Homo sapiens: one gene and its partners. The protein of the gene in region 5 purifies or fractionates together with the protein of the main gene of each other region. This does not show direct contact. Each region holds a gene or a part of one and is shown on either strand. Other genes may lie near its edges. The genes, in order: INTS2, XPO4, FAM118B, HIP1R, SCN2B, TNPO3 and ORC5.

Evidence for each region.
Region 1: the proteins of SCN2B (region 5) and INTS2 purify together in Homo sapiens (affinity purification with mass spectrometry; 4 studies listed by BioGRID and IntAct, with this or other methods). This does not show direct contact.
Region 2: the proteins of SCN2B (region 5) and XPO4 purify together in Homo sapiens (affinity purification with mass spectrometry; 4 studies listed by BioGRID and IntAct, with this or other methods). This does not show direct contact.
Region 3: the proteins of SCN2B (region 5) and FAM118B purify together in Homo sapiens (affinity purification with mass spectrometry; 4 studies listed by BioGRID and IntAct, with this or other methods). This does not show direct contact.
Region 4: the proteins of SCN2B (region 5) and HIP1R purify together in Homo sapiens (affinity purification with mass spectrometry; 4 studies listed by BioGRID and IntAct, with this or other methods). This does not show direct contact.
Region 6: the proteins of SCN2B (region 5) and TNPO3 purify together in Homo sapiens (affinity purification with mass spectrometry; 4 studies listed by BioGRID and IntAct, with this or other methods). This does not show direct contact.
Region 7: the proteins of SCN2B (region 5) and ORC5 purify together in Homo sapiens (affinity purification with mass spectrometry; 4 studies listed by BioGRID and IntAct, with this or other methods). This does not show direct contact.

The regions. Positions count from the first base shown.
Region 1 is NC_000017.11:61,893,483-61,896,982, reverse strand, and holds part of INTS2 (integrator complex subunit 2), read left to right. Parts: intron 1-1,599; coding exon 1,600-1,668; intron 1,669-3,083; coding exon 3,084-3,218; intron 3,219-3,500. UniProt on the Homo sapiens protein: Component of the integrator complex, a multiprotein complex that terminates RNA polymerase II (Pol II) transcription in the promoter-proximal region of genes.
Region 2 is NC_000013.11:20,896,247-20,899,746, forward strand, and holds part of XPO4 (exportin-4), read right to left. Parts: intron 1-3,500. UniProt on the Homo sapiens protein: Mediates the nuclear export of proteins (cargos), such as EIF5A, SMAD3 and isoform M2 of PKM (PKM2). In the nucleus binds cooperatively to its cargo and to the GTPase Ran in its active GTP-bound form.
Region 3 is NC_000011.10:126,256,782-126,260,124, reverse strand, and holds part of FAM118B (protein FAM118B), read right to left. Parts: coding exon 3,273-3,343; coding exon of another isoform or gene 3,255-3,272; intron 1-3,254. UniProt on the Homo sapiens protein: May play a role in Cajal bodies formation.
Region 4 is NC_000012.12:122,848,957-122,852,456, reverse strand, and holds part of HIP1R (huntingtin-interacting protein 1-related protein), read right to left. Parts: intron 2,583-3,500; coding exon 2,502-2,582; intron 1,623-2,501; coding exon 1,546-1,622; intron 1,222-1,545; coding exon 1,160-1,221; intron 1-1,159. UniProt on the Homo sapiens protein: Component of clathrin-coated pits and vesicles, that may link the endocytic machinery to the actin cytoskeleton. Binds 3-phosphoinositides (via ENTH domain).
Region 5 is NC_000011.10:118,173,840-118,177,968, forward strand, and holds the start of SCN2B (sodium channel regulatory subunit beta-2 precursor), read right to left. Parts: upstream 2,801-4,129; 5' UTR 2,593-2,800; coding exon 2,523-2,592; intron 1-2,522. UniProt on the Homo sapiens protein: Regulatory subunit of multiple voltage-gated sodium (Nav) channels directly mediating the depolarization of excitable membranes.
Region 6 is NC_000007.14:128,968,112-128,971,611, forward strand, and holds part of TNPO3 (transportin-3), read right to left. Parts: intron 2,205-3,500; coding exon 2,037-2,204; intron 1-2,036. UniProt on the Homo sapiens protein: Importin, which transports target proteins into the nucleus. Specifically mediates the nuclear import of splicing factor serine/arginine (SR) proteins, such as RBM4, SFRS1 and SFRS2, by recognizing phosphorylated SR domains.
Region 7 is NC_000007.14:104,205,214-104,209,202, forward strand, and holds the start of ORC5 (origin recognition complex subunit 5), read right to left. Parts: upstream 2,801-3,989; 5' UTR 2,692-2,800; coding exon 2,620-2,691; intron 1-2,619. UniProt on the Homo sapiens protein: Component of the origin recognition complex (ORC) that binds origins of replication. DNA-binding is ATP-dependent. The specific DNA sequences that define origins of replication have not been identified yet.

The DNA of each region.
Region 1 (3,500 bases), on a different chromosome or scaffold from region 5:
ATGTAAATACACACATAGGCACCCACATGTATCTCTTCATACACCTGTTGGATTATTTTCTTAGGATAAATTTCTAGAAGGTAATTGCTAAGGAAAAGTGTATGACTATGTTAAGGTGTTTCATGAGTACTGTCAGATTATCTTTTCGAAAGATTGTATCAGTTTAACTCTTACCGTTAGTAAGAACTACTGTTTTTCTAAACTTTCAACATGACTGAGCATTACTATTTTTTTTTAATCTTTGCAAATTTGGTTGATGAACAGTGGTATCACTTAGTTTGAATTTCTTTGATTACTAGTGAAACTTAGTATTTAAAATTTATGTGTTTTGGCTTGTTTATTTCTTTTGTGAAAAGCTGATCAGTATCCTAATTTTCCTGTAGGGACTTTGATTTATTTTTTTCTTTCACTGATTCAAAAGGAAAGATATGTCATTATGCCTTATACATCTTACTTCATATATTTCAAGACGTATATTTTACCCAGTATTGAAATTGGGATTCATTTTACAGTTGACATGTAATATGAAAGTGGTAGTGTTCCAACTCCTACTTTTTTCTTGAAAAGCTACTGTAATATTAAATCAGTGACATATCTTATAGTATCTTTAAAAGTGGAGAGTTCAATATGTTATAATTGACTTTTTCCAGTATTTTTTGCCATTTAACTTCGCCATGTGGAAATTATTATCATTATTATTTTTATGTAGTATATTAAATGTTTTTTTTTTGTTTTTTTTTTTTGAGATGGAGTCTTGCTCTGTCGCCCAGGCTAGAGTGCAGTGGTGCGATCTCGGCTCACTGCAAGCTCCGTCTCCCAGGTTCATGCCATTCTCCTGCCTCAGCCTCCCCAGCAGCTGGGACTACAGGCACATACCGCCACGCCCGGCTAATTTTTGTATTTTTAGTAGAGATGGGGTTTCACTGTGTTAGCCAGGATGGTGTCGATCTCCTGACCTTGTGATCTGCCCTCCTCGGCCTCCCAAAGTGCTGGGATTACAGGCGTGAACCACTGCACCTGGCTGTAAATGTTCTTTTTGTGTTTTCTATTTTGCTCTTATGCTTAGAAATGTTTTCCTTTCTTGGGTTTATATAAGTGGTCACTTATATTTTCTTCTAGTTTTTTTTGGTGGTTTCATGTTTTACATTTGAACATTTTAATCTACTTGGAGTTTCTTTTGGTGTATGGTGTGATATGTGCAAAAAGTGTATGTGTGTCTATCTGTACATATACATATATACATATATTTGTGTGTGTATATGTGCGTATATACAGACACAGACACACACATACACACACACACATATTTCTCTTGGCCTCACAGAGGGGCAGCTATCCTAGCTCCATGTAGTAAATAATCTGTTTCCCCCAACCGACTGAAAATGCCAATAATAGTATTTATTAAGTGCTTTTTATATTGGTTCTGTTTTTGAGTATTAACACTTTAATGTTGGGTTTGGGAAAGCACTTCTAAAACAGAGTAGAGTACTTGAACATTTGAACATTTATGTGTATCATAGCCATTTTAGATAAGTTCCCTAGAATAAATTGTGTTTCATATATTTTTACATGCTGTTGGAATTCTTTTGGTAATTTTAGATTGTAATTAAGCCAAGCTCCTTGAGCAGGATGAAGACAATCTTCACACAGGAAATTTTTACTGAGCAGGTATTTCTTTTTATTCTTAGGTACTTATTTAACTTTCTTTTACAATATTCTTTGGGAGAAAACTTGTGTGTCTTACCTTAAGAAAATAATATGGTCTTTTTTCTTTTTAAACTCATGATGATTTATTTCATCTTTGAAACTTTCTTAAAGAATAATCCATTTAAAATACACTTTTAAAACTAGTCATAACATACCAAGGCATCTTTTGAATTTATGTATTTTTGGAGACTTTGAGTAGATACTTAGGAGAATACTCTTAGATGTTGCTGGTAGGGCATCTCAAGGGGTAATTGTTTTAATGTGTCTGGAGAAAGATAAAATGAAGTCCTATTTAAACCTTTAGGCTGTAAAATTCATTTCTAACTAGATTACAGGCTAGAGTCTAAATTTCTTATACTTAACATGTTCTTCTTTAGCCTTAGCACTTTTGTCCATGGATAAGCATAAGGATTTTTTTCATTTCTTTTTTTTTTTTATCTCACTTTGTCACCCAGGCTAGTATACAGTGGTATGGTCATAGCTTACTGCAACCTCTGCCTCCTGGGTTGGAGCAATTCTCCTGCCTCAGCCTCCCAAGTAGCTAGGATTAGAGGTGCACACCACCACGCCTAATTTTTGTATTTTTAGTAGAGATGGGGTTTTACCACGTTGACCAGGCTGGTCTTGAACTCCTGACCTCAGGTGATCCACCCACCTCAGCCTCCCAGAGTGCTGGGGTTACAGGCATGAGCCACTGCACCCGGCCAGTTGTTGCTTTTTTGTGGCTATTAATATCTTTATTTCTATATTTTACTATCCCTCCCACCCTCAACACGCATATGCACATATACTCCTGAATTACAAGTAGTCACACAGCATGTGGGAGAATCATAAGTTATTTTTTGTCTTTAAATTTGAACCAATTGGAAGACAACTTTGAAGAGGGTCTTTAAAAGACGATTAGAGCCTATGCATGACATATTGAGAATAAATATTTCTGTTTATATTTATGTGGTGCTTTATAGTTCATATGATGTTTTTCCAAAAAGAATATTTTCCCCCCATAACAATGCTTTGAGGCAGGTATGGCAGTGTCCTGTTTTGTAGATGTGAAAAAGATTCAGAAGATAAATGACTTCTTCAAAGTCATTGAGCCCAGATTGTATGCTTCAAAATTTTATTTTATTTTTTTACCTTATCACACCACTGTGTATGTATCTATGTTTATAAACAAAAAATTAGGGAATTATATAAATCCCTAAATGTACATTTCCTCAGCATTCAAAGACAATTAAAACATGTAATAATTTATTTTCATCATTCATTTCTAGGGACCACACTTGTATTAGGTGTTGACAGTCTACTTACTAATCTCTCTTTCAAAATAATTTTATATTTAGTTCTATTATATTACTAATGCTATTTTTCCCTTTTAGGTTGTCACAGCTCATGCAGTTCGGGTCCCTGTCACCAGCAACCTGAGTGCCAACATTACTGGATTTTTGCCTATTCATTGTATTTACCAGCTTCTCAGGAGCCGTTCCTTTACCAAGCACAAAGTGTCAATAAAAGTATGCCCCTACAAATAAAACAAAATAAAAGCATGCCCCTACATTTTTATATATATATTTTTTTTCTTTTGAGATGGAGTCTTGCTCAGTCACCCAGGTTGGAGTGCAGTGGTGCAGTCTTGGCTCACTGTAACCTCTGCCTCCTGGGTTAAAGTGATTCTCCTGCCTCAACCTCCCAGGTAGCTGGGACTACAGGTGTGTGCCACCATGCCCGGCTAATTTTTGTATTTTTAGTAGAGACAGGGTTTCACCGTGTTGGCTGGCTGGTGTCGAACTCCTGAC
Region 2 (3,500 bases), on a different chromosome or scaffold from region 5:
CAATTAATTTTTCTCCCACCTCAGAAAAGGGTGAGGAGGAAAGAGAGATTTTGATTGACATTATATTCAATTTAGAGATGAATGAGGGAGAAATTGCCACCTTAACCGGATTGACCTTTCAGACCAAGGAGCATAGCCTTCATTTAATTCAGCTCTTTTATATTCTGCAAATAAGCTGTATCATGTTCTTCACAAAAATGGTGCATGTTTCTTATCAGTGCCCTATAATTTATTTCTACAGTTTTTCTTTCTAACAGAATGGGATCTTTTTTCCAATTTTAAGCTGATCACTGCTGATATAAAGGAAATCTTGCAACCCATTTATTTTTCTTACATCTGGTCATCTTTCCAAAGAACTAATGGTTCCAACAGTCTTAGTTATTTTGCTTAAACTTTTTTTCCGAAATGTCATATCACCTGCAAATAATCATTTTTTGGCCTTTCTTTCCAATATCTGCACTTATTCCCATTTTTTGTATTACTGTATCAGTTAGACCCTCCAGAAGGTATTAAATAACAGTTATATTAGGACTCCCGTTTTACTTCTGAGGATATCATCATTTAATACATGGTTTCAGATAACTATTTGTTATCATATTGAGAATTCCCTTCAATTCCTAGTTTATCCAATTGTTTTAATCATAAAATGCTGTTAAATTTTAACAACTGCCTTTTAGGCATCTATGGATGATTTCAAATGCCTTTTTGCATTTCTTCTCTGGATCACTGGCTATGTTCCAATTAGTGTGACACAAGTCCAACTGCAAATACACATTTAATTGAACTGAATTTGAAACATAAATTTCCTATTAATTAGCTTTTTTGAGAAAAAGAATGCTGTGCCAGTTTTCTAATATCTAGTGCCACCGCAGGTACTACAAGACAGGGCTGAAATAAACAAAAATGCATACTTACTATAATGCATCTTTCAAATAAGAAAAGTAGGTTCAATTAATTAAAATTTTCATTTTTATGACGTGTACTGTGGTTACAAAAAAATAAAGGCAGTGTACCTTACACATTGAAGGTCTCAGGAAATATCTACTACATAAATGCTCAAATATTCCTCAAACTCACTGTATTTCCCCAAACTATATTCTCTCAGACTATATTCCCCAAAATATATATCTCCACCTGGGATATTGCTTATCAAACTAGAAAACTCTAATCTATTTTTCATGATTCAGCTTAAGGGTTACCTATTCCAAGAAGCCCTTTCTCAGTCCCTATCTCAGCCTGAGATAGATGTTTGTACCTACTTCTATTATAACTTTACCAACCAACATTTGCTAATATTTTTGCCTTTCTCCACTCCTTGAAAAGAAGGTGCTTCTTCTGTCTCCTCAGCATACACAGCATAGTGTCTAACATGCTGTGTTTCTATATACTGAAGAAATGTTCTAAAACAAATCAATGGCCAGAAATTGGATTCCAGATCCAAACTAGCTACATGACAACAGGCAAATCATTTGCCATCTCTGAATATCAGGTTTTCATATTTATTTATTTATTTATTCTATTTTTTTGAGACAGAGTCCCGCTCTACAGCCCAGGCTGGAGTGCAATGGCACAATCTCTGCAACCTCTGCCTCCTGGGGTCAAGTGATTCTCCTGCCTCAGCCTCCCAAGTAGCTGGGATTACGTTATAGGTATGCACCACCTCGCCCAGATAATTTTTGTATTTTTAGTAGAGTCATGGTTTCGCCATGTTGGCCAGGCTGGTCTCGAACTCCTGACCTCAGGTGATCCACCTACTTTGGCCTCCCAAAGTGCTAGGATTACAGGTGTGAGCCACCATGCCTGGCCAGGTTTTCTCATTTATAAGGTTTAGGAATATCTCATCCTATTTACTTCACAGGACTGATATGAGAATGAAGACAAAAATTTTTCTATAGGACTACAGATGTGCAAGTATTTTAGAAGATATTAACCAGATTCCACTATAATAAAATCTATGAAAACCAGTCATGAATCTCGTTTATTAAAGTTGGATTTACACTCACTAAATCCATCCTGGTTTAAAAACAAATGTATGGGCCGGGTGCGGTGGCTCACGCCTGTTAATCCCAGCACTTTGGGAGACCAAGGTGGGAGGATAACCTGAGGTCAGGAGTTCAAGACTAGCCTGGCCAACGTGTTGAAACCTCATCTCTACTAAAAATACAAAAATTACCCAGGCGTGGTGCCAGGTACCTGCAGTCTCAACTACTTGGGAGGCTGAGGCAGGACAATCACTTGAACCTGGGAGGCAGAGGTTACAGTGAGCTGAGATTGTGCCATTGCACTCCAGCCTGGGCAAGAGTAAGACTGTCTCAAAAGAAAAAGGAAAAAAAAAACCTATGAAAATTACTTTTCTATAATGTATCAGTTAATATGTGTGCTCTGCACTATCTTATATTATTGCTACACACAATCACTAAGGACAATCCAAAACAACCTAATGAAGACAGGGCAACAAAACCAAGCAAATTCAAGACAATAAATAAAGCGCTCTTTGGACTGCAAATGAATGTGGCATCAATACTATAAGAACACTAAACTTTTCAATAATGTTGTCTCTAAAATCAAAACACCTCCTACATTTTAGTATACAAGAGGATGTGCATAGGTCATACACAATTACCATACCATATCATGTAAGAAACTCACCTGGGCACAGTAGCTTACGCCTATAATTCCAGCACTTTAGGAGGCCAAGGCAAGAGTATCACTTGAGCTCAAGACCAGCCTGGGCAACACAGTGAGATCCTCTCTACAAAAAAATATTTTTAAAAAATTACCCATTCAAGGCTGCAGTGAGCCATGATCATGCCACTACACTCCAGCTGGGACAACAGAGACCCTGTCTCAAAAGAAAGGGAGGGGATCGGGGGGACTTAAGTATCAATGCACGGTTGATGTCCATGGGTGGAGGCGGTTCCTGGAACTAACCTCTCATGGACACCGAGGGACAACTGTACTACTTTATCTGGCAGCTTATCCAATAATCTAAATTGATTGAATATAGATGTACCATATTTAGACATTTTCCATCAAGTAATAAAATGTAACATTTATAGTATATGTTGACTAAGAACCAACATGGTTGAGTAAAAAAAGTAAAAAAAAAAAAAAAAGAGTAAAGGTTTTGAAAGGGGAGTCTGGTGATCTCAGCCTGGATCAGTTATATCATGAATTTGCTCTGTGACCTACCTTGGGCAAGTCACTTCTACCTCTTTGAACCTCAGTTTCCCCATCTGTAGCATAGAAGGGAGAATGCTTAGACTTGATTCTTATTTTTCAGTTTCTAGTCTCTCAGAGACGGTGATAAAAGCTCTAGACCCTATTACTAAAAATGTACATTTACACCAAAAAATTTGTTACAATTTCCTTTTGATATTCATCCTAGACTCCCTAAGACTTCTGTACCAAAAGATCTAAGATTCTTCTATGTTCTAAAATTCTATGCTGATTTCCATAAAACAACTATATGAGTTACCTAATGAAAAATTAAGCAAAAA
Region 3 (3,343 bases), 8.1 Mb from region 5:
GGGAGGTCAAGGCTGTGGTGAGCCATGACTGTGCCATTGTACTGCAGCCTGGGTGAAAAAGCAAGACCCTGTATCAAAAATAGTAATAATAATAAAATAAAAATAAAGCTGGCACAGTGGCTCACGCCTGTAATCCCAGCACTTTGGGAGGCTGAGGTGGGTGGATCACGAGGTCAGGAGATCGAGACCATCCTGGCTAACACAGTGAAACGCTGTATCTACTAAAAATACAAAAAATTAGCCGGGTGTGGTGGCGGGCGCCTTTAGTCCCAGCTACTCGGGAGACTGAGGCAGGAGAATGGCGTGAACCCAGGAGGCAGAGCTTGCAGTGAGCTGAGATTGCGCCACTGCACTCTAGCCTGGGTGACAGAGAGAAACTCCATCTCAAATCAATAAATAGGCCCGGGCATGGTGGCTCACGCCTGTAATCCCAGCACTTTGGGAGGCCAGGGCGGGTGGATCATGAGGTCAGGAGACCGAGACCATCCTGGCCAACATGGTGAAACCCCATCTCTACTAAAAATACAAAAAATTAGCCGGGCATGGTGGTGGGCGCCTATAGTTCCAGCCACTCAGGAGGCTGAGGCAGGAGAATCACTTGAACCCAGGAGGCGGGGGTTGCAGTGAGCCGAGATTGTGCCACTGCACTCCAGCCTGGCGTCAGAGCGAGACTCCATCTCAAAAAAAAAAAAAAAAAAAGTACCACAACGACTGCTTGTATGGTAATGGATTATAAGAATTATTTTTCTTTTTCCCACTGCTTGATTTTTCCAAAATATGTGTAACTACATACTATAGAATCCTTTGAAGACAATTAATTTCCACTATGCAAAAGTGAGTATACAGCACAATGCCAGGCACATAGCAAAGGTTCAGTGTTAAAAAACAAAATAACAGCAAAAGACCTGTAACCTCTCATTAGTCTATATCTACAGAGACTCAAAACATTATGCAAGGGTGAAAGATAAGGTTGACTCGTTTCAAAATGAAATGATGTTTTAACCTGAAACTGCTCTACTACATTTCACATGACAAACTCAGCTGACCATTCCCATAAAGCACTCTGGCCATACTGAAAATCCTTGATTTTGTTTAAAGATACAGAACACCTTAATGATGGGTAACTTCGGGGAAAGCTACTCTGGTAGGAAGCCTACACAGCTAATAAAAGAATTTGTGCCATTCCACAATAGCAGTTAAGGTTCCTTAGAGCAATCTTAGTGCACTAAGGAACCTTACTGCTTCTTTGTTATGTAATGCAACAGTCTAAAGACATATTTATTTTTTGCTAAGATTTAGTGCAACAGAAACAGTTATGCAGACGGATTTTGCTGTTTTAAACTTTAGCATCTTTCCTCAGCATATAGATCAAAAGAAATATGTAGAACTTGGATATGTATGTCTTGTTAATGAAAACAACATGTGCAACAGAAAAGCCTTCTCAAAGTCTCAAGTGTGGGCAAACAACAGCAGGAGAGTCTAGAACACTGCAGGACACCAGAAAAACTCATTTCCAACAAAGAATAGTAAATAGTTTTCACAAATGAGACTTGTTCATGTGGTGATGGCTTTTAAAAGTCTGGTTCCATCAAAGCATAGCCATGGAAGAAGCTGTGTAATTTTTCATTACAGGAGAATTCTACTTGAAGCCATCTGATTCAGTTAAGAAATCTGGGGATGATTTGATTTAGGAAAACTGCTTTATGTTTATTAAATTACCTGTATGTTATTTATTTTAGAAACAGCGTCTTGCTTTATTGCTCAGACTGTAGGGCAGTGATGCAATCATAGCTCACTGCAGACTCCAACTCCTGGGCTCAAGTGATCCTCCTGCCTCAACCTCCCAAGCAGCTGGACTACAGGTGTGTGCCACCACACCTGGCTAATTTTTTGCAGAGACAGGTTCTCACTATGTTGCTCACACTCATCTTGAACTCCTGGCCTCAAGTGATCCTCCCACCTGGGCCTCCCACAGTGTTGGGATTACAGGACAAATTACCTGTACTTTTGCCCTCCTAAGATGCATTCAGGTTGACAATGAAAATACTTACATAAGTTTTCAGGAAATATTCTGTGCACAACAGCCAAGTTTTTTTGGAATTAGATGGATGAGTCACACTAGCCATACTCTGGAGCCTGGCAATGTGAGGTTTTGAAAAAGCATTCTTCAGTTTAGCTGATACCAAAAATGTTTGTGTTTTGTGCGGTTACTGGGAATTTGCCTGCAGCCACTAATCAGCTGAATCTTTAATCACCATTTTGCTCTTTATTGTTAGAATGTGGAGGTAAAATATCAAGTGTATGATACCCCTATCCTCTGACTTGAATATCACCATTATCCGTTTCCAAATAGCATTTCTAAAAGTAAGTTTTCTGTTTGTAAATATAATACATAATCATCATAGAAAATGCCAATACAGAAACCAAAAAATCAACACTTTAAATCCTACTAAAGATAGCCACTTAATTTAGTAAACATTCCAGATACATTTCTACACGCACCAAAAAAAAAAAAAAAATGTACAATTCTATATGAATATAGCTGACCATGGTATTTACAACCTGCTTTTTCTTCCTTTACTCATATGTCTCTAACTTTTTTTTTTATGGCAATGAAAACACTTTCCCTTCTATGGTTTCATTGTATTTCATCAATTAAATAAATATTGGCATATCTGTAGAATCTCCACCAATTTTAGGATCCTTCCAATTTTTTGCCACTACATTCAATGGAAATTACATTCCCACGCATGCATCTTTGTACAATTGTGTGATTGTGCAATCATCCAATTATCTCCTTATGAGAAACTTCTAGGATAAATTGTTTTGATGGGATTTCTAGGTCAAAGATTTGAAAATTTTTGTTACATCTTCTAATTTATGGTCATAAAAGTTGTACTAACTTTACCTTTCCACAAATACTCCATGAATAAATTTATTTTCTCACAGCCTTAGCCAAAATTGGGTGATCTTTCTTCGCTATTTTGTAATCTAAATTCAAACTGCATTTCATTGATAACTAGTGAGGCTGAACATCTGTTTTCTTCATTCTTCCTATGTCTATATTGAACTGCTCAAGTATTCCTTTTTGTCTGTCTTCCCATAATCCAAGTGGCACTTTAGTCTAACCTGAAGACTGTGGCCTCCTTTACAATTTGGTCAGTCATTACATTCCTCATCTTGGCAACTATTTTGCCCATCACATCACAAATACACAAAAGGCTGAAGAGCTGTTGTTCTCTGATTCCCCTCAGCTTCAAAATGCATCTTACCTGATGTACCCCTTGTGGAGATCTCACATGTCAGTCGCTTGAAATATTCTGGAAGATCGGCATAGTCATCT
Region 4 (3,500 bases), on a different chromosome or scaffold from region 5:
GGTAACTGGCTCCTACCTGGTGGGCTCTGTGCTGAGAGGCTCAGGCTCAGCACATCTCTGCCAGGACACAGAGCCTGGTAGCCCTGTCCTGCTGCACAGTTGGGGCCACACCTTTGGACACCTGCCCTCTGCTCTCCATGTCAGATCCTGAGCAGGCTCTTCCCAGGCACAAGGGTCCAACTCTGAGCCCACCTCCCACCCACTGGAACTGAATACCCATCAGGCTCGCCCAGCTGCACTGGCCAGACCTGGGGACTCAGGGAGGCTGCCCAAACTGCCTCTAACTCCCAATTTTCCCTTAAGGAGGCATTTGCTTCTTGCCCTCTTATGGAGAGCACTGAGTCACCCATGAGTTGTTTTGAAGCTGCCACCCAGAACAATCAGTTCTCCAGCCTGGAAGCTGAGCCCTCTGAGATTTCCTGTCCAACAGCGGCCGGGTTCCCTCGCTAGGAAGTCTGACGTGACTCAGAGGCTTTCTAGAGCAGAAAATGGCAGGACGACCCAAACCTTTCTTCCAGCTGGGCTCTGCAGATGGCCCAAGGCTGGGGCAGGAACCTGGCAAGGTGGCTCCTGTGCACACCTCCTCACCCTCCCTGTCTTGGGGCTGATGGAGTGACACTCACTGGATGGAAGAGATGGCTGAACCTGTATCCTGGATGTACCCGCTGGGGCCTGCCATGCTTTGGAGGGGCCAGGAGGCCCCATTACCTATCCCTGGAGGTGCAGGGACCCCAGGAGGGGCAGGGGCATTTCTTTTTCTTTTTTTTTTTTTTAAGACGGAGACTCACTCTGTTGCCCAGGCTGGAGTGTAGCGGCATGATCTCCGCCGCCCAGGTTCAAGTGATTCTCCTGCCTCAGCCTCCCAAGTAGCTGGGAATACAGGCGTGCGCCACCACGCCTGGCTAATTTTTATATTTTTTTAGTAGAGACAGGGTTTCACCATGTTGGCCAGGCTGGTCTTGAACCCCTGACCTCAAGCAATCTGCCTGCCTCGGCCTCCCAAAATGCTGGGATTACAGATGTGAGCCACTGCGGCTGGCCAGGGTCATTTCATAGTGATCAGTTGGTCTGATCACTCATGTCTTCTTTTTTCTTCTCGTCCCATCTCTGGGGACTTAGCAATACACTCAGACCCCCGCATCCCCTCTTTACGGCTCACCTGATTCAGAAAGCTTCAGCTCACAATCCATGTAATCAAACATCTCCACAGTGAGCTGGAAGCTACGCAAGAGAAGTGGGGGAAGAAATGAAAAAGGGTGGGTGGACCCACCCACTCGTCCTGAGACGCCCCCTCCAGTGGGGACGGGGGCACCGCCGACACCATGGCTCTGGTGAGACAGCGTGCCTCTGCCAGGACGACAGTCCTTCAAGTACACCCCACCCTTTTAACTTCACCCTCTGTCCCTGGGAGCGTGAGCATCAACCAACAAAGCCACGGACTCATTCAACCCCACTGCCCCATGCGGACGCCTGGGCGTGAGACGCGGTAGGAAGGAATGGGGAAGCCGAGGGGAACTGGCTATGTAGCCATGCAGAGTGACTCACATGTTGTTGACATCGGTCCCAGCTGCCTTCTCCAGTACCTCATCTGTCACCTCCAGGCCCGCGGGAAACTGGGGATGCTGTGGAGAGAACCCCCACCCAGCGGCCACTGAACCAGGGCCCCCCCACACCTGGCGGCCACCGAACCAGGGCTCCCCCCCACCCAGCGGCCACTGAACCAGGGCCCCCCACACCCAGCGGCCACCGAACCAGGGCCCCCCAACCCAGCGGCCACCGAACCAGGGGGCCCCCCCACCCAGCGGCCACCGAACCAGGGCCCCCCCCACCCAGTGGCCACCGAACCAGGGCCCCCCCCACCCAGCGGCCACCGAACCAGGGCCCCCCCACCCAGCAGCCACCGAACCAGGGGGCCCCCCCACCCAGCGGCCACCGAACCAGGGCCCCCCCCACCCAGCGGCCACCGAACCAGGGCCCCCCCCACCCAGCGGCCACCGAACCAGGGCCCCCCCACCCAGCAGCCACCGAACCAGGGGGCCCCCCAACCCAGCGGCCACCGAACCAGGGCCCCCCCCACCCAGCGGCCACTGAACCAGGGCCCCCCCAACCCAGCGGCCACTGAACCAGGGGGCCCCACGCTGGACCCTGCTCTTGGCAGACCCAGGCTGTGGCCCACATAGGTGGCAGAGGGCAGTGGAGGGGTTGGGAGGAGGGGAGCACCCGGCCAGCACAGCAGAGACTGAGGAAGCCCAGCGCTCATGTCCACAGAAACGCCTGGGGAAGCCCGTGCCCACGTCCACGGAAATGCCTGAAGTGTTCTAGGAGCTTCGTGATGCCCTGGCTTCCCCGTCTCCCCTTTAGTCATAGTTGGGACAAGAAGGTGAATGGAAAGACTCATGGAGAGGACAGATCCCACCCTCGATGTCCCAACATGTGCCATAACGTCACAGTGGGAAAAGCCCACGGGTCCCTCAGCCCCATGACTCCCCCGAGGAAACCACCTTGAGGTGGAAGGAGATCTTGGTCAGCAGCAGCTTGGTGTAGACATTCACCAGCTGTCCGTAGCGGTCATGCAAATGTCCCTGTGTGAAGACAGACAGGGTGAGGGGCCACGGCTCGTGAACACGTCCAAGAGTCCTCAAGGACCTGGGCACGAGAGTGACCCACCACCGGGCACTTCTTCATTCAACAAACGTCTTCTCCTGGCCTCCACCAACCACCCTCTCTGTCTCTAGCTTTTTCCCTTAATCTTCCTCCTTGTCATTCCTGCCAAAGAAACTCTTGTGAGAAGAGAGCTCTTTGTCCAGGGCGGCAGGCCAGTTCTGAGCAGGGACGCTTTATTAAAGTGCTGGTGCTGGCAGGGAGGCACGTCCCGACGGGCGCCTGGACACATCCTCCCTGCTCCCTCCTCCAGCCCCACGGCCCCTGCGGCCGGGCCAGCTGGGCCTGCATCTGCAGGTGGCACCATGGGCAGTGTTTTCCTCGCTTCAAGGGAAGTGAGTCCGGGCAGTGGTTCTGGGTTGGATAACGCCCTGGTCAGGCCTCCCTGTGGGTACCCGGTCCAGGGCCTGCCCTGCTCCTATGTCCCTGCCCAGGCAGACGAGCACCCCACAGTGCTCCAGAGAGAACCAGGCCAAGGCCCTCTGCCCACCAGGGACATCTCTAACTCCTGAGGTCTTGCAGTGCATCCAGATTGCAGGCCCCCCAGGGCTCTCAGGCCTTACTGTGTGTGTGCTCAAAATGCAGACCTCCAGTCCTGATTCTTCAGCAGCAGGTCTGGGGGAGCCCAGGAACCTGCGCCCTGCCACAGGCTCTCTAACCACCGAGGTGCCCGGGCTGTGGTCTTGCCACATTTCCCAACTCGTGAGGACTAAAGGGCCCGGGTGACTTCGACGCTGGAGGGCCCACTGGTTATGCGTGTGGAGCGCCCTGGGCCAGGCCCTCAAAGGCAGGCAGCATCTCCCCGTGCTGCCCCTCCCACTGTCGCCCCTGGGAAAACC
Region 5 (4,129 bases):
ATGTCTGGGTCCCCACCACCACAAGCAGCAGATATGTGCAGTGGGCTAGAGTGAGGACTAGACTTCACTTTCTTTCTTTCTTTCTTTCTTTCTTTTTTTAAGAGACAGGGTTTGGTTCTGCTGCCCACGCTGGAGTGCAGAGGCATGATCACGGCTCACTGCAGCCTGGAACTCTTGATACTCCTTCTTCAGCCTCCTGGAACAGTTAGGACTACAGGTACATGCCACCATGCCTGGCTTATTTTTCTTTTCTTTTTTTTTTTTTTTTTTTTTTTTTTTTTGTAGAGACAGGGTCTTGCTATGTTGTCCAGGCTGGTCTCCAATTCCTGGCCTCAAGCGATCCTCCCACCTCGGCCTCCCAAAGCACTGGGATACAGGCGTGAGCCACCATGCTCAGCCCAGACTCCACTTTCTATGCCTCCACTAACATAATCCATACATTGGTAAGCAGGCCAGTGACTGTGGAGTCAACGGTCTCAAGAAAAACTTGAGGGAAGCCCAGTCATTTGAATTGTTTCTGGCTAAAACTAGCCTCATATGCTTCTGCCGTGGGTAGAGCTGGTTGCCCACCTGCCCTTTCTCTTTGCCACCTCCATAGTCATCCCCACAAGCCCAGCCCCGACAGAGTCCCCTCCCTCGTCACTTGTGGCATCCTCCATCCTGGGGATCGATGCTACTGCAACACCACCAAAGTTCCACTGTCAACTCGGCCCTCAGCATTGGAGTGCCAGGGACATGCCTCATTACAGCACCAATCAAGTTCAAGTTCAAGGTCCCCATTCCTGCATCCTCTCCCACTCAGCTTTGCAGAAGCTTTAGCTTCCTCCCACTACCATCTCCCCACCCCAAACACTCAGACCTCTTCATCGCAGACTCCCTCTTCCTCACCCTAGCCCAGAGCTCTGGGTCCTGGTCACTGAGCCCCCTTTCTATCTTTACTTAGCCATGGCTCTCACCAGGCGGCTTCTCTCCTGCACGAAGTGCTTCCTAACTCCTGAGGAAAGGGTCCTGTCCTCCAGCTGGGCCTCCTTACAACAGGCCACTCACCCAACTCCCCTTCTTTCAGCCTGTCCTGAGACTCTGATCAATTAGGTACTGTTAATATAGCAGTGCCATTTCTTGAACATTGGGGAGTGGAATCCAACGTTTAAGAGAATGTGCTGAAGTCAGACACAGGGAGTTCAAATTTCAGCTCCCGTTACCATAGTCATCTGTTTCCTCCCTGTAACCTGAGTATAATAGAATCTACCTCCGATTGCTGTGAGGGCTAAACAAGATACACAGTGCCTGGGCTCACGAAAAGCATTCTTATGTTAGCCATCGTTGAGTTCCTGCCATGCACCAAATCACAAACACGTCAGGCAGTAGGCATTCTTTAGTTTACCCGGGAGGGAACTGAAGCTCAGAGGGGTTGAGTAACTTGCCTGTGATCATTACGTAAATGACAAAGGTGGCTTGAAACCCAGGTCCTGCCAGAGATTCCATAGCATTCCTGCTCTGATGTTAATATGCCAAGTAACTCAGCAAAGCAGGCTGGCAGGGCCTCTGCACTGTCTGTGTTTAGCACTCCTACTCCAAACCCAGCACATCACACCACAGAAAGAGAGAGAGCCTTTGTGGTGGGGAATAGTTCCATCAACAGTCCTTGGACTTGACTCTCAGTTGCTGCTCCAGCAATAAGTAAGTTTAGGAGCAAGAATGAAACTCTACAAAGCAGGCTTGCAAATAACTTTCTAGCCCACTTCCCCACCAGGAAGTCTCTGAGTGGTCAAATACAAACACTTGACAGGACAGTCTGCAAGACTGGGCTGGGCAGTTCTGAGGCTGGATTTAAAGGGCTGCAACCTCGCTCAGCCTGTGGGTTCCATTTTTTTCCTGAATCTCTACACCTGGCCCTTCCTCCATTCCATCCGGCCCAAGCCAAAGGTGCCTTCTCCATCAGTGCGTGCCTCAGCAGGTCTCCTCCCAACCCAGACATCATTCCCCAAGCCCGCTTCCCACCTACTCCCACACACGTTCCAACAGATCAGTGAGACCGAGTGCCAAGAAGCCAGACCCAGACTCAACTTTCTGCCACCAGCTCCCCTGCACACTCTCCTAATACCCTAAATCCACCAGGATCAAGCTTCTGAAAAGAAGCCCCTTAAGGGAGCATTAAGTCCCAGGACCCCGCATTTGCAGCAACTCCAAAAAATAATCCCTGAAGAGACTGCAGGTCAATCCACTCTCTGCCCCACCGCCACGTAGGTCCACTTAGGGGAAATCCAGAGAAGATTCACCTCCCTTGACAATTGTCAGCCCCCAGCAACACTCAGATCCCCTGACCCAACATTTCTGTGACTAAGTAGTCCCAGGGTTCTGCACTCCCCAGCAACGTCCCTTCCAGTCCCCAGCACCTCCCCTCCCAAGGACACAGAGGGAAAGCGCTAGCAATGTCTTCTTTCCTATCCCCTGCCCCCATCCTCTTCACATTGCGGCTACACTTCTGAACCCTCGGGAGCATGCAGATGTGTCTAACTTACCCAAAGAGAAAAAGAGACTGAGCCCCGTGAGGCTGAAGGCAGGGCGAGGTAGCCAGGCATCTCTGTGCATTTTCAGAGACTGAGATGTTAGTCGGGTGGGCTACGGGAGAGGGTGATTTGAGGGGGCGAGAACTACAAGGGAGGAATGGTTGGATGCTAAAAAAAAATGCACGGATGTACTTCAAAGACATATACAACATTAAGGAAGCTTTATTTCCATCTCTCTAATATGGCCGGCTTGTATGTTGCTGCTAAAAAGAGAGAGAGAGGGAGTGTGTAAAGGAGAGAGAGAGAGATGGGGGGGAGAGAAAAGGGGGATGGGGTAAATATTGTGGTTGGTGGATTTCAAAAAGCAGGTGGGAGGGCATAAAAAAGTCATTTTGAAAAGAACAAAATCCCAGAAATTTTTACCCTCTAAAACAAGAAATAATACAAACCCTGCTTTTTGACTTCACTGGGATGATTGTTGGATTTTGAAAGCTATTAGAGGAATCCATTTATTTTAAAGATTCTGGAAAGGGAAACACCTTTTATCATTTAAAAACACCCCCAGGCTGACGCAGTGGCTCACACCTGTAATTCCAGCACTTTGGGAGGCCGGATGGATTGCTTGAGTCCAGGAGTTCAAGACCAGCCTGGGCAACATGGCAAAACCCATCTCTACTAAAAATACAAAATTTAGCCAGGCATAATGTCGCATGCCTCTTGTCCCAGCTACTGCACCGCACTCCAGCCTGGGCCCTGCCTCCAGAGGGAAAAAAAAAAAAAAAACCTAAAAAAAAAAAGGAGATGCTTGTTTTTGTGTTATTGAAAAGGGTTCAGGAAAGTGAGTTGGAGAGACTTTCAAGGGGTAATGCTTTCCTCATTCTAGCGTTTCCTCTGAAAACAGAACATGTTGAAGCAGGCTGATAGAAAAATACCCAAGAGATCTTACAATTGAATGTAACACAGGCCTTTGGATAAACCTGATTCAAACAAATCAACAGGAAAGAAAAGTTTTTGAGACAATTGGGAAAAGTTAAATATGAACTACATAGTAGATTGTATTAATGAATCATTCTTAATTTTGTTGGGTCTGATAAAATGTGGTTTTGTCCTTTAACATCTCTATCTGTTAAAGACACACATGGGTGGCCGGGCGGGGTGGCTCACACCTGTAATCCCAGCACTTTGGGAGGCCGAGGCAGGCAGATCACCTGAGGTCAGGAGTTCGAGACCAGCCTCCCTAACATGGTGAAACCCTGTCTCTACTAAAAATACAAAAGTTAGCCGGGTGTGGTGGCGTGTGCCTGTAATCCCAGCTACTTGGGGGGACTGAGGCAGGAGAATTGCTTGAACCTGGGAGGCGGAGGTTGCAGTGAGTCGAGATCACTCCGCTACATCCCAGCCTGGGCCACAGAGTGAGACTCCATCTCAAAAATACATATATATATATTCAACGAAAAAAAGAGATGGGAGAATAGGTGACACGAGACTAGTTGTTTTGCTTGATAATTGAAACTAGCTGGTGATGGGTGTAAAGGGTTTGTCATATAGTTCTCTCTTCTTTTGTGTATGTTTAAAACTTTTCTTTTGAAGAAGGAAGAAAAAATAAGCTAACGTCATAA
Region 6 (3,500 bases), on a different chromosome or scaffold from region 5:
TTCAGATACCTGAAAGAGCAGGGGCAAAAAGTATACTAAGCCACCATGTCAGAAAGTATACATATGAGACATATGAGTCCAGAATCTTAAGGATTTTAAGGCCATCTCTCTCAGAATAAGTCCTATCCATTCAGTTCCTTTGTGATATCTGCCTGTTCTTTGTGTTAAAAAACCTTGCTCTTGTTGCTGTTTAATTTACTTATATATTTTTTATATAAGTATATCTAAGAATTCTCTTTATGCCTTTTCTATGCACAAAAATTGTCTACTCCCTTTACTTCCTTCCTTTCTAAAATAAAAATTCTACAGACTTCCTCTGGGTTCTTATTTTCAGTTTAATTGTTGTCCTTTGGGTCAGCACTAATATTTCTTCATCCCTTTCTTAAGTGGAATGTATACTTCAGTCATAGTTTTGGGCTGTAAAATTACTCTTTTATACCTAATTTTTTTTACATTATATATTTTCCCATCATATTCATTTATGGCCATAATAGGCCAGAGCAAAAGTATTATAAATGCTCATGAAGTACTAAGCATTTCTTAATTATGGATACATAACAGCTCCTTAATTCTTAAAAATACATAATAGTTGTTATATAGCAAACTTTTTCTTTTTTGAGACAGGGTCTTGCTATGCAGCTCAGACTGGAGTGCAGTGGCATGATCATAGCTCACTGCAGGCTGGAACTCCTGGGCTTAAGCAATCCTCCTACCTCACCCTCCTGAGTAGCTGGGACTATAGATGTATGCCACCACACCCAGCTAATTAAAAAGAAAAAAAATTTTTTTTTTTTTTGTAGGGATGGGGTCTATGTTGCCCAGGCTGGTAGTCTCAAGCTCCTGGCGTCAAGTGATCCTCCTGCCTTGGTCTCCCAAAGTATTGGGAAGACAGGCATGAGCCATTGTGTCTGGCTGATATACAGTACACTCCTTAGAGTACATGGCTACCTGGTTTCTATTCCTGTCCAAACTTCTTGTTCTCATTTTTTGTTGTTGTTGTTCGCACTTAACAATATGCTTACAATCAAGAATGTTTTCATAAAGTTAGATTTACATAAGTTTTCTGTTACTTGGGAACCAAATGTATTTGTAAAAAAGTTTAAGCAGAGTATGAAGACTTTTTCCCTCAGGTCAAGGACTTTTGAATTAAATTTGCTGATTCCTGGAGGCTCAAAAAGTACTTTTCTTTAGAAAAACAAATATGCTACTCTATCAGGTTGAAATGGAACATGTGTATTGAACCAGAGAGGAATAGGTACTATCTGTTATATATTATTATTATCAATTTTATATTCTGTGGTTCTGTAAGACAGCTCACTTTAACTAGGTCCCAATGAGTACTTTCCTGAACTGCTTTTACAGTAATATTAAAAATTATAAATTCCATTTTAAAAATGATTTCAGGTTATATTATACTTTACCATTCTACTCAACTTTCACACAGTACACATAACCTGAGTTATGGTCATGTGGCCCAGTACTGAAATTACTTGGGCATTATTAGATAGCTTTAAAAAAACAACTCCATCCTTAGGTGGGTGATAAAGGATCTGGTTCAAAGAAATCCAAAGGGGAAATATATCCAACTGTACATTGTGGGTTACTTTGACAATTATGTGCTTCCAAATGTTCTGGCTAGATGTATCACCAAGAAATAATACAGTGCTATAGAATAAGTCTGAAAGGATTAAATACTTCTTGAGTAATACGTAACTAATATAACTGACATTTGGGCATCTCTCACAAGTGAACAAATTTCACATTGGACAGCCACACAACTGAATTCAATGCTTGATACTTACTTCTGGTAATATACCCCCTATGACAGTGACATAGAAACATGCTTTAAAGAACTCAATAATAAATTACTGATCTTTACGGGCCTCTTCATCTACCAATCTAATTTGGCAATATGCCTAAATTTGGTTCCATGGACAGAAAACAGGGCTAGTTTCAAAATTAGGGTTGGCCTTAAGGAACCAAAGCCTATTACATTTAGGGACTATGAGATAAATTCCTCATGAAAACAATCTTACCGGTCTGTCAACCTGCATGATCTCCCAGAGCACTTCAGCCACATCTGGTAGGGTATAGGGGGGGAGGCAAAAGCAGCAGGTGTGCAGCAGCTGGCTGACAAGCTGCTGTCCAAGCTGGTTCATCACCTGTCCAATCAGTTCTTTCCGTAATTCAAAGTCTTCTTCATGCTGTATGTAGGAAAGCAGGAACATCAGATAAATTCTAGTCTCAACTTCCCAAAGACCAAGCACTCTTTCCCCTTTAGTAATTTCTCTTTAATAGGAAAGTGTGTGTGTGTGTGCACGCGTGGCTGTGTGTGTGTGTATGCAGGTGTGTGTAAAATGACAGCTGGATTCACAAAGTCCAGAAGTTTTTTGTCTTTAGAAAGAAAATGAAGGAGTTTATTAGTATCCAAGGAATGAACATGGGTTTCAACAGAGATTAATGCTTAGATTTTTCATGATTTGAAGGCAGAAAACATGGTTAAGAATTAAAGTTAGCAATTTTTAAAATTTTTTTCTCTTCATCTTCTATGTGATGGTATTAATTTTTTTTTAATGTGAAAAATAACTTGTGTTCCTATTTCCTTTTTTAAAAACTAAGTCAGCCTGGCATGGCAGCACACACCATAGTCCCAGCCACTCCAAAGGCGCAGGTAGGGGAACAGCTTGAACCCAGTGTTCTGGGCTAGAGCATGCTATACCAATTGGGTGCCTGTACTAAGTTCAGCATCAATGTGGTGACCTCCCAGGAGTGAGGAACCACTCCTGGGTTGCCTAAGGAGGGAGGGGTGAACAGCCCAAGTCAGAAACAGAGTGGGTCAAAATTCCATTCTGATCTGTAGTGGGATCTCGCCTGTGAATGGCCACTACAGTCTGTCTGGGTAACACAGCCGGAACCCCAAGTCACAACAAAACAAAACAAAACAAAACCAACTGAAATTAGAATTGAAGACGTCTATCAGAGATCTAATTTTTTCTATCGAAAAAAAAAAAACCCTTTTTTTCTTCTTGCGGTCTTTAATTTTTTTTTTTCTGAGACAGCGTCTTGCTCTGTCACCCAGGCTGGAGTGCAGTGGCCTGATCTTAGCTAACTGAAACCTCCATCCCCTGGGTTCAAGCAATTCTCCTGCCTCAGCCTCCCTAGAAACTGGGATTACAGGCATACACTACCACACTTGGCTAATTTTTGTATTTTTAGTAGAGACAGGGTTTCACCATGTTGGCCAGGCTGGTCTTGAACTCCTGACCTCAAGTGATCTGCACGCCTTGGCCTCCCAAAGTGCTGGGATTACAGGCGTGAGCCACTGCGCCTGGCCCTTCTTGTGGTCTTTAAATACACATGTATTTCTAATACCTTGAGAAAAATATTTTTTAAATTGCCTTTCCCTTCTAGTTATTTTCTTCTCTCTTTTACTGCCAAACTTCTTAAATGAATAGCCTAAATAGAATGCAGAATACTTACTTCTTCACTGCTCTCCCCTG
Region 7 (3,989 bases), on a different chromosome or scaffold from region 5:
TGAGTAGCTGGGATTACAGGTGTGTGCCACCACACCCAGCTAATTTTTGTATTTTTAGTTAAGACGGAGTTTCACCATGTTGGTCAGGCTGGTCTCAAACTCCTGACCTTGTGATCTGCCTGCCTCAGCCTCCCAAAGTGCTGGGATTACAGGTGTGAGCCACTGTGCCTGGCCTATTTTTTAATAATACATTTTTTTAAATAATTACAAGAAAATGGGATTATGCAATTTCTATCAGAAAGTTAAGTCTCTATTAATTATCATCGATTACAGCAACAGTCACAAACATTTATTACATTCAAGTCACTAAGTTAAACATTTCCTTTTACAAGACAAATCAGGAACTCAGATTTACGCAGGAAAAAGACTTTCTAAATGGCATACAGCTATGGCAAAAGCAGCTCAACTGCTAAAAATAGACTAAAAATTTACTTGAAATGAATAGGTAATGTAATACATGAATCTTTTTCTGAAGTTTATATGTAACAATCATAAATTAACTGGCCCAAAAATTCTGTCTCAGCAGGATGCAGTGGCTCAAGCCTGTCATCCCAACACTTTGGGAGGCCAAGGCAGGCAGATCACTTGAGTTCAGGAGTTCGCCTGGGAAATACAGTGAAACCCCATCTCTACAAAAAACACAAAAATAGCCAGGCTTGGAGGCAAACACCTGTGGTCCCAGCTACTCGGAGGCTGAGGTGGGCGGACTGCTTGAGCCTGGGAGGCAGAGACTGCAGTGAGCCAAGATCATGCCACTGCACTCCAGCCTGGGAAAGAAAGCCAAACCCTGTCTCAAAAAACAAAAACAAAAAATTCTGTCTCAAGAATTAAATGCATGTTGCTGAGTATCTCTGCTATCCATTACATGTTGTTGCCTAATAATACCTTAAACATCTTTTCTATTGTGACCTAGAATTATATTGAACTGTTCCACTGTTATTTAACCTTTCACCTTCATAAATCTCGCTAACATAAACTGCAATAAGCTAGTACCTGACACAGAAAAGGTGCTCGGTAAATATTTATTTATTGAACAAATAAATGAGTATTCTTAGAAACATGAACCAATTTTTTATATTTCTTTGCTATAGTTGTTTGTATTTCCCACATGCACAGCACCTTGCAGAAAACTGATATTAAAATATTGTTAAACATAATTTTCATTAAAAGCAAAGGTCAAAAACTCTTCTGTGATCCACCACTAAGTTTACTCATCCCTATTTGCCAATTTGCTCTTTCAGCAGGAACATTTCTGGCTGGAGTGATCTGCGTTCCATAGATGAAATGCAGAGAACATAATCAAGAAAATGCTCCAGTAATAATATAACTATAATTGAAAGCAGTATAAATAGAAAATTAATTGAAGATGCAGTTGTTGACCTCTAACTTCCCTAAATAATGCACCCCTTTAGACAGAGGGTAGTACTTTTCCACTAATGCTTCACAGGCCACCTCAAATTGCCATGCAATATTTCTAGTTGGATGAAAGTACAGTCACGTGTACATTCAAAGATGGACCACATATACAACAGTGATCTCATAAGATTATAATACCCTATTTTCACTGTACCTTTTCTATGTTTAGACACTTTTAGATGCAGACTTATCACTGTGTTACAACTGCCTACAGTATTCAGTATAGTAGCACCGCTGTAGAGGTTTATAGCCTAGGAGGAACAGGCTACACCATACAGCCTAGGTGTATAGCAGGCTACACCATCTAGGTTTGTGTAAATACACTTTCTGATATTCACAGGGATTAAATTGCCTAACGATGCATTTCTCAGGACGTATCCCCCTCACTAAGTGGCAGCAACGCATGACTGTACTTAAAAAAGCAAACCAGAAGATGGGGGTATGAGTATGACCCTGAATTCTCATTCACTCTCTTCGCAGGTAAGATCCAAGTTTGATTAATTCCAATTCTGATTGAGTCTGAATCAAAAAGCACATCAAAGACCACCAGAAAATAGTCAAAAATAGGTTAAATTTTGAATTGGTGAACGCTACCCTCTGCCTATTGAAAGGACTCCCTACGTATCTATGTTCATCCAGACAAGACAAACTCCTCTCTAGGGCATCCTGTGAACTATCAGTTAAGGAGAAAAGTTTACCCTAGACCTCTTCTGGACTGTTACAATTCTGGAAAAGCCAGTAAATTTTTAAACCTGAAGCACTGCTTTGGCCCTTAGTGGCCTTGAAAGCAACCACCTCTCTACACTTGACTCACTCCAACTACCGCACAGAAACGTGTGAACTTACATTTGAATAAATAACACCCTGCAAACACATCTGTTACATAAATGTCATTGGGTTGGGGTAAGATAACAAGCAACTTCTAGGAGCTAATGTGGGCAAACTTCTGAAAAGTGTGGCGTGTTTCAAATACGTCTTAGGCAACGTCCTATAGTGCAGGCCGGTCGCTCTCAGACTGTCTCCTCTTCAATATTCGGAAGAGACTGTGGGTGAAGCTGCAGTACAGAACCACAACACCCCTATTTAACGTAAAAACGGCCTTTTGGCCCTCAATCCAAACACGAAAAAACAAATATTGGAACAGGTCGCAAGACTACCGAAACGTCTGCCTCCAGGATCTGGAAGACAGTTTAACTACAATACCTCTCCAAACAAGGACTGCAAGATGGACACTTGAGACTCGCGACAAAGCACCACGTTTTCCAAGTGGGGCATTCTGGCAGGCACCACCGCAGAGGCCAGTGCAGCCAGCCCACAGGACCCTTGCACAAGACGGAGCCTCTCCCGAGTCTGGCGGCCCACGCTCCCGCCGGAAACCGGACCCGCAGCGTCGTGGGAGGAGCCTGCGCTGCCGGGCTGCGGCGTGACGGCAGCGCGTACGCCGAGCGTCGCCGCCGCTCTAGTCTCAGGGCCGGAACCATCCTCTTCTCGCTGGTCCTGTGCGCGCCGAGGTTTTGCCCATTCTTGGGCTTGGTGGGGATTTCGGGCTGACGCTTTTTCCACTCAAAGGCTAAGGAGACGACATGGAGATGGGCGAATAGGGAAGGGGTGGAAGGGGTTAAGGGGGTCCCGTGGGCCTCCAATGACCCCTGAACCCCGTGCCTTTAGTTTTACCGGCTGGAAGCCCCAAGTTTAGAAACCTTGAGTGCCTAAGAAGACGGACCCGGAGCTGGGGCCCTTAGAGGGACGTGGAAGGCGGACTTAGAAGACTAATATTGTCAAAAGATGTTTTTGTTGTCGTTTTTTTCCCTGACGACGTTGTGGGAAATTAGTGGCATTGAGTACAAAACAGGGTGTAATGGGGTTTAATGCACAGCTTGGAATTACTATTTTTTGTGCAAGCTTTAAACCAGATGTGGAAAGCCTCTCAGTCCTAATGGGATGAAGTCGTAGTGTGTGTTGGTGAGGTTGATAGTAAAAATAATGCTACTTTTAGCATTAGGCTTTCACGTGTATTTATTTGTGAGGCACCTACTAGCGACTAAACACTAGAAGATTCTGGAAATAAGATACAGAAGTAGGCAAGTGCATGGTGGAAAGAGAGCTTGGCGTCCTGAAACCCCTGGGTTGGGACCACTGACTGACTCAACTGCTGAATAGGGGGACTTTGGAATAGTTGAGCCTCAACTTCCTTATCTATAAAATAGGGATAATACTGGCTAGGTTATTGCTAGGAGTAGAAGATCCTGTACATACTACCTGTTATACATAAATTTAAATTGTGGACTTCAATCTGCCCATAGATTGTAGATCAGTCTTAGATTTGTGATGGTCAAAAGGATCTTTTGAGAGTTGTGGTATATAACGTATTAGCTAGTCAAAATAGTATTTTCACAGCAACAATTCAAAAGCATTTGCCCAGGTACTTTTTAATAGAGAATTCTAAAGGTTATAATGGGACCACCCATTAAATTTCAATGTCTCCAAGGGAAGCTGGCCTCTGATACTCTCCTAAGATGGTTATACGTCCGTAACATACTGTGCATATAAGGTATACATATATTATAATCATA